Linked DNA regions of Homo sapiens: region 2 is linked to region 1. A link means that fine-mapping ties the variant in region 1 to the expression of a gene that starts in the linked region. Tissue or cell type: whole blood. Region 1 holds a variant in brackets; the other region holds the start of a gene. All regions are shown on one strand. Distances are between the middles of the regions.

Region 1 (2,755 bases):
CCTGACCAACATGGAAAAACCCCACCTCCACTAAAGCAATACAAAATTAGCTGGGCGTGGTGGTGCATGCCTGTAATCCCAGCTACTCAGGAGGCTGAGGCAGAAGAATAGCTTGAACCTGGGAGGCAGAGGTTGCAGTGAGCCGAGATCACGCCATTGCACTCCAGCCTGGGCAACAAGAGCAAAACTCTGTCTCAAAAAAAAAATTAGCTGGATATGGTGGCATGTGCTTGTTGTTCTAGCTATTTTGGGGGCTAAGGTGGGAGGATCGCTTGAGCCTGGGAAGTTGAGGCTACAGTGAGTCATGATCGCACTACTGCACTCCAGCCTGGGTGACAGAGTGAGACCCTGTCTCTAAAAACAAACAAAAAAGCCAGGCGTGATGGCTCACACCTGTGATCCCAGCACTTTGGGTGGCTGAGGTGGGCGGATCACTTGAGCTCAGGAGTTTGAGACCAGACGTCTCTACATAAAAGACAAAAATTAGCTCGGTGTAGTGGCTCACATCTGTAGTCCAAGCTACTTGGGAGGCTGTGGTGGTAGGATCACTTGAGCCCAGGAGGCAGAAGTTGCAGTGAGCTGAGATTGTGCCACTGCACTCCAGCCTGGACGACAGAACAAGACCCTGTTTGAAAACAAAACAACAATAAAAAAAGAAATTTAATCCCCAGTGTTGGAGGGAGGCCTCACGGGAGGTGTTTGAGTCATAAGGACACATCCCTCGTGGATAGATTAATGCCCTCTCCTGGCAAGGCAGTGGTGGTGGTGAGTAAGTTCTAACTCTGTTAGTTCTCGCGAGGTTGTTAAAAAGAACCTGACCCCAGCTACTCAGGAGGCAGAAACAGGAAGATTGCTTGAGGCCGGGAGTTCAAGACCAGCCTGGGCAACATGGACCTTGTCGCAATAAAAATAAAAATAATGGCCGGGCATGGTGGCTCACGCCTGTAGTCCCAGCACTTTGGGAGGCTGAGTTGGGTGGATCACGAGGTCAGGAGCTCAAGACTAGCCTGGCCAACATGGTGAAACCCCATCTCTACTAAAAATACAAAAATTAGCCGGACGTGGTGGCGGGCACCTGTAATCCCAGCTGTTCAGGAGGGAGGCAGGAGAATCGCTTGAGCCCGGCAGGCAGAGGTTGCATTGAGCACCATTGCACTCCAGCCTGGGTGACAGAGCAAGACTCTGTCTCAAAAATAAATAAATAAATAAAAATAAAAATAAAAATAATGAGCTGGGCATGGTGATATTCACCTGTAGTCTCAGCTACTTGAGAGATGGAGGCAGGATGATCGCTTGAGCCCAGGAATTTGAGGCTGCAGTGAACTGTGATTGCACCACTGCACTCCAGCCTAGGTGACAGAGCAAGACCCTATCTCAATTAAAAAAAAAAAAAAAAAAAAAAGGAAGCTAGCACTTCCCTCTCTCTTGCTTCCTCTGGCCGTATGACCTCTGCACACCCCAAC[C/T]CCCTTCACCTTTTGTATTAAGAAGAAGCAGCCTGGGGCCCTCACCAGAAGCAGAAGCTGGCACCATGCTTCCTGTACAGCCTGCAGAACAATGAGCCACATAAACCTCTTATTCATAATTATGCATTACTGTATTAGTCTGTTCTCACACTGCTAATAAAGACATACCTGAGGCCGGGCCTGCTGGCTCACACCTGTAATCCCAGCACTTTGGGAGGCCAAGGCAGGCGCATCATTTGAGGTCAGGTGTTCGAGACTAGCCTGGCCAACATGGTAAAACCCTGTCTCTACTAAAATTCCAAAACTTAGCCAGAAATCGCTTGAACCCAGGAGGTGGCAATTGCAGTGAGCCAAGATCTTGCTACTGCACTCCAGCCTGGGCAAGAGTCAGACTCTGTCTCAAAAAAAAAAAAAAAAAAGACATACCTGAGACTGGGTAATTTGTAAAGGAAAGAGGTTTAATGGACTCACATTTGCACATGGCTGGGAAGGCCTCACAATCATGGCAGAAGGCAAATGAGGAGCAAAGTCACGTCTTACATGGTGGCAGGCAAGAGAGTGTGTGCAGGGGAATTGCCCTTTACAAAACCATCAGATCTCATGAGACTTATTCGCTACCACAAGAACAGTATGGGGGAGACTGCCTCCATGATTCAATTATCTCCAGCTGGCCTCGGCCTTGACCTGTGGGAATTATTGCAATTCAAAATGAGATTTGGGTGGGGACACAGCCAAACCATCTCAGTTACCCAGCCTCAGGTAGTCCTTCATAGCAACACCAACAGACTTAGACAGGCCCCAGCTCCTAATACCATCCTATGGGGAGTGAGGATTTTGACATAGGAATTTGGTGGGGGGGTGGGGACACAAATCTTCAGTCCATAACATTCCTATAACTTCAATCAGGTAGAAAGTAGCTAGTCAAAAACAGGTTTTCATTAGCAACACCAATGAACTAAGACAGGCCCAAGCTCCTGATACCATTCCACAGAGGGTGATGATTTTAACATAGGAATTTGTCAGGGGGACACAAATCTTCAGTCCATAACACGCCTATAACTTCAATCAGGTGGAAACTAGCTAGTCATGGCCAGGTGTGGTGGCTCACACCTGTAATCCCAGAACTTTGGGAGGCTGAGGTGGGCGGATCATTTGAGGTCAGGAGTTGGAGACCAGCCTGGCCAACATGGCGAAACCCCAACTCTACTTAAAAAAAAAAAAAAAAAAAATTATCTGGGCGTGGTGGTGTGTGCCTGTAATCCCAGCTACTGGGGAGGCTGAGGCAGGATAAT
Region 2 (2,755 bases), 27 kb after region 1:
ACTCCAGACCTCAGGTGATCTGCCCGCCTCGGCGTCCCAAAGTGCTGGGATTACAGGCGTGAGCCACGGCGCCCAGCCAATTTTTTCATTTTCTTTTTCTTTTTTTCAAGGCCCGGCTAATTTTTTGTATTTTTAGTAGAGACGGGGTTGCACCGTGTTAGCCAGGATGGTCTCTATCTCCTGACCTCGTGATCCGTCCGCCTCGGCCTCCCAAAGTGCTGGGATTACAGGCGTGAGCCACCATCCCCAGCCTAGAGTTCTTGATAGTATCAGGGCTGAGAAAGTACCAGAGTTAGAGCCAGGTGGGGTGGCACTAAAAGTACAAAAAATTAGCAGGGCGCAGTGGCGGGCGCCTGTAGTCCCAGCTACTCAGGAGGCTGAGGCAGGAGAATGGTGTGAACTCGGGAGGCGGAGCTTGCAGTGAGCGGAAATCGCGCCACTGCACTCCAGCCTGGGCGACAGAGCGAGACTCTGTCTCAAAAAAAAAAAAAAAAAAAAAAAAAAAAAAAGAAAGTACCAGAGTTAGGAGGCTCCTAAACTGGTCCAGATGGGAAGTGACGGGGCCAAGGATAGGGAAGTGAAGATGGGAGGAGTAGGACTAACTTAAAGGCCATTTAGCAAAAATTCACCACGCAAGGCCCTATATTAGGGCGCTGGGGGCTCATACCTCATCGTCCCGTCAACTCTATAAAGCAGGGGCCAACAAACTTTTTCCATAAAAGGCCAGATCGTAAATACTTCAGGGTCTGCAGATCTGTAGGATCTTTAGCAACTACCTACTCTGTTGTAAGGCGAAAGCAGGCAGAGAAGCCAGGTAAACGCGTGGGCGTGTCTGTGTGCTAATAAAACTTTATTCAGGGACCCTCAAATGTGAATTTCACAAACTTTTCACAGGTCATAGACTATTCTTCTTTGGATTTTTCCCCCGGCTATGTAAACATGTAAAAATAATTCTGAGCTTGCGGGGCCGGACAAAGTAGGCGGCGGGTCTTGGCTCGCCTACCCCTGCTATATAAATCATTAATTATGATACCAATCTTAAGGAGAAGGTCTTCAGAAGAGTCCCTCAAAGAGCACCGCCCCTCAACGTCATCAAACCCCGCCTCCAAAGGCGGAGGCTGCGCATGCGCGGCAGGACCTCGGGCGGGGGCGGGGCGGGGCGCAGCTCCGACTTCGGACATGGCGCACGCTGGCGGTGGCAGCGGTGGCAGCGGTGCCGGCGGCCCCGCGGGCCGGGGGCTGAGCGGCGCCCGCTGGGGTCGCTCGGGCTCCGCAGGCCACGAGAAGCTGCCGGTGCACGTGAGTGGCGTCCCCGCCCTCCCTCGGGGAACCCATCTTCTGGACCCCGCGGGCGGGCGCCCCTCACCCAGGCCCCGCCCGGCCCCAGCCCCACCTCGGCCTCCCCTCTGCACTGCCCCGGACCCCTCACCCCTCACCTCTCACCTCGGCCCTCCGAAAGCCCAGCCCATCCCCTTCCCCTCAGGGACCCCGGCCCCTCGTCCCCTCGTTCCGCGGCCAGGGCCCACCGGGACCCTCCCCCTCTCTGCAGGTAGAAGACGCCCTCACCTATCTGGACCAGGTGAAGATCCGCTTTGGCAGCGACCCTGCCACCTACAACGGCTTCCTGGAGATCATGAAGGAGTTCAAAAGCCAGAGGTACCAGCGGGGCCCCTCTCCACCTCAGGGGACCCCCCTGGGCCGGAATCGGGCCTAGCGGGGTGAGACCTCCCCTCTCCAGCCTGCCCCCTTAGCCGGGTGACCTTGCGCAGGTTGTCCAATCTCTCAGAGCCCTAGCTCCTTCTCGTAACAAAAATGGAAATGGGTAGTACCCACCTTGTGGAGCTTTGTGGGGATTCCTGGAAGCAGGACAGGGATCTGGGGGGAGGCAGGGAGGGCGAGGCCGTGCACACTCATAGAGTCAAATCCTGCCTTGATTTAATATGTTGATTTTTATATTAGTTTTGTTCATGAAAGATTTGGTGGGACCCATTTTGATTTTTATTTTCAAGCGCTGTAAAATGTTATTGTCTTGATGATTGAAATTTTTGGCACCCTCTTCCCCTTTAATCTTGTCCTCAAGATGCTTCTCTGGGCTCACTGTGGTCCCAGGCCTGCTTGGAAGTAAGACGCATAAAATGCTTAGTAAGGGAGCTGGCACACAGAAAACGTTTAAAACACATGAGATGATTTTGCAGGCCCAGAATCAAGGAAGATTACAGATAGATGGGAAACCCTGGGATCATGCCCTTGTTTTTATAGGAGACTCACTGAGGTTTGGAGTGGGTAAGGGACCCACCTAAGTGGCAGAGGTGTCACTAGAACTCAGACCCTCTGACTCAGATTCTTGGAAGTCACATGCTTACCATACTGCTGCCCCCTCTTAGGAAACATGGTGGGGCTGGCCTGGTTTCCTTCCGGGAGCCCAGTGCTAAGGGCTGGGCTGCAATGCAGCCAGAAGGGAGACCCCATCTCTCCCCTCCTATTTTTCTTACACCTTTCCCATTCTTGGCAGTACCATTGGTATTTATGCATTGCAATTGTTTGCTCAGATGGAAACCTGTGTCATAGTCATCTCTATCTGATACAAAATGAGGGAAGTTTTCACATTGCTTAGAGGACTTTGGCCTCCTGCCATTTCTTGGAGTCCAGGCCTTGCGGTTGGCTCTCCTGACATTTTCAGAACCGAGTACCCATTCTTGGAGTGTTTTAGGGGAGCTGAGCGATGTCAGTATTCTCTGGTTCTCACCAGGAGGGA

The links. PIP is the estimated chance that this variant, and not a neighbour inherited with it, causes the effect.
Region 2: it holds the start of SIN3B, and the variant in region 1 is fine-mapped to the expression of SIN3B in whole blood (TOPMed, PIP above 0.99). The same link has a PIP of 0.9 or more in blood mononuclear cells, monocytes and neutrophils.

The regions. Positions count from the first base shown.
Region 1 is chr19:16,801,084-16,803,838 of GRCh38, forward strand. All of the region lies in intron 17 of NWD1 (NACHT and WD repeat domain containing 1), which reads left to right. The region is part of intron 2 of LOC124904648 (a long non-coding RNA gene); the gene reads right to left. Among named protein-coding and RNA genes, the nearest start is that of SIN3B, 27 kb to the right of the region's middle. The variant C/T (reference allele first, on the strand shown) is at 1,464.
Region 2 is chr19:16,828,242-16,830,996 of GRCh38, forward strand. SIN3B (SIN3 transcription regulator family member B) reads left to right here and starts at 1,157. Exons shown (of 19, transcript NM_001297595.2): 1 at 1,157-1,299; 2 at 1,550-1,656. The coding sequence starts at 1,180. RefSeq lists an enhancer at 883-1,384 and a silencer at 1,125-1,304.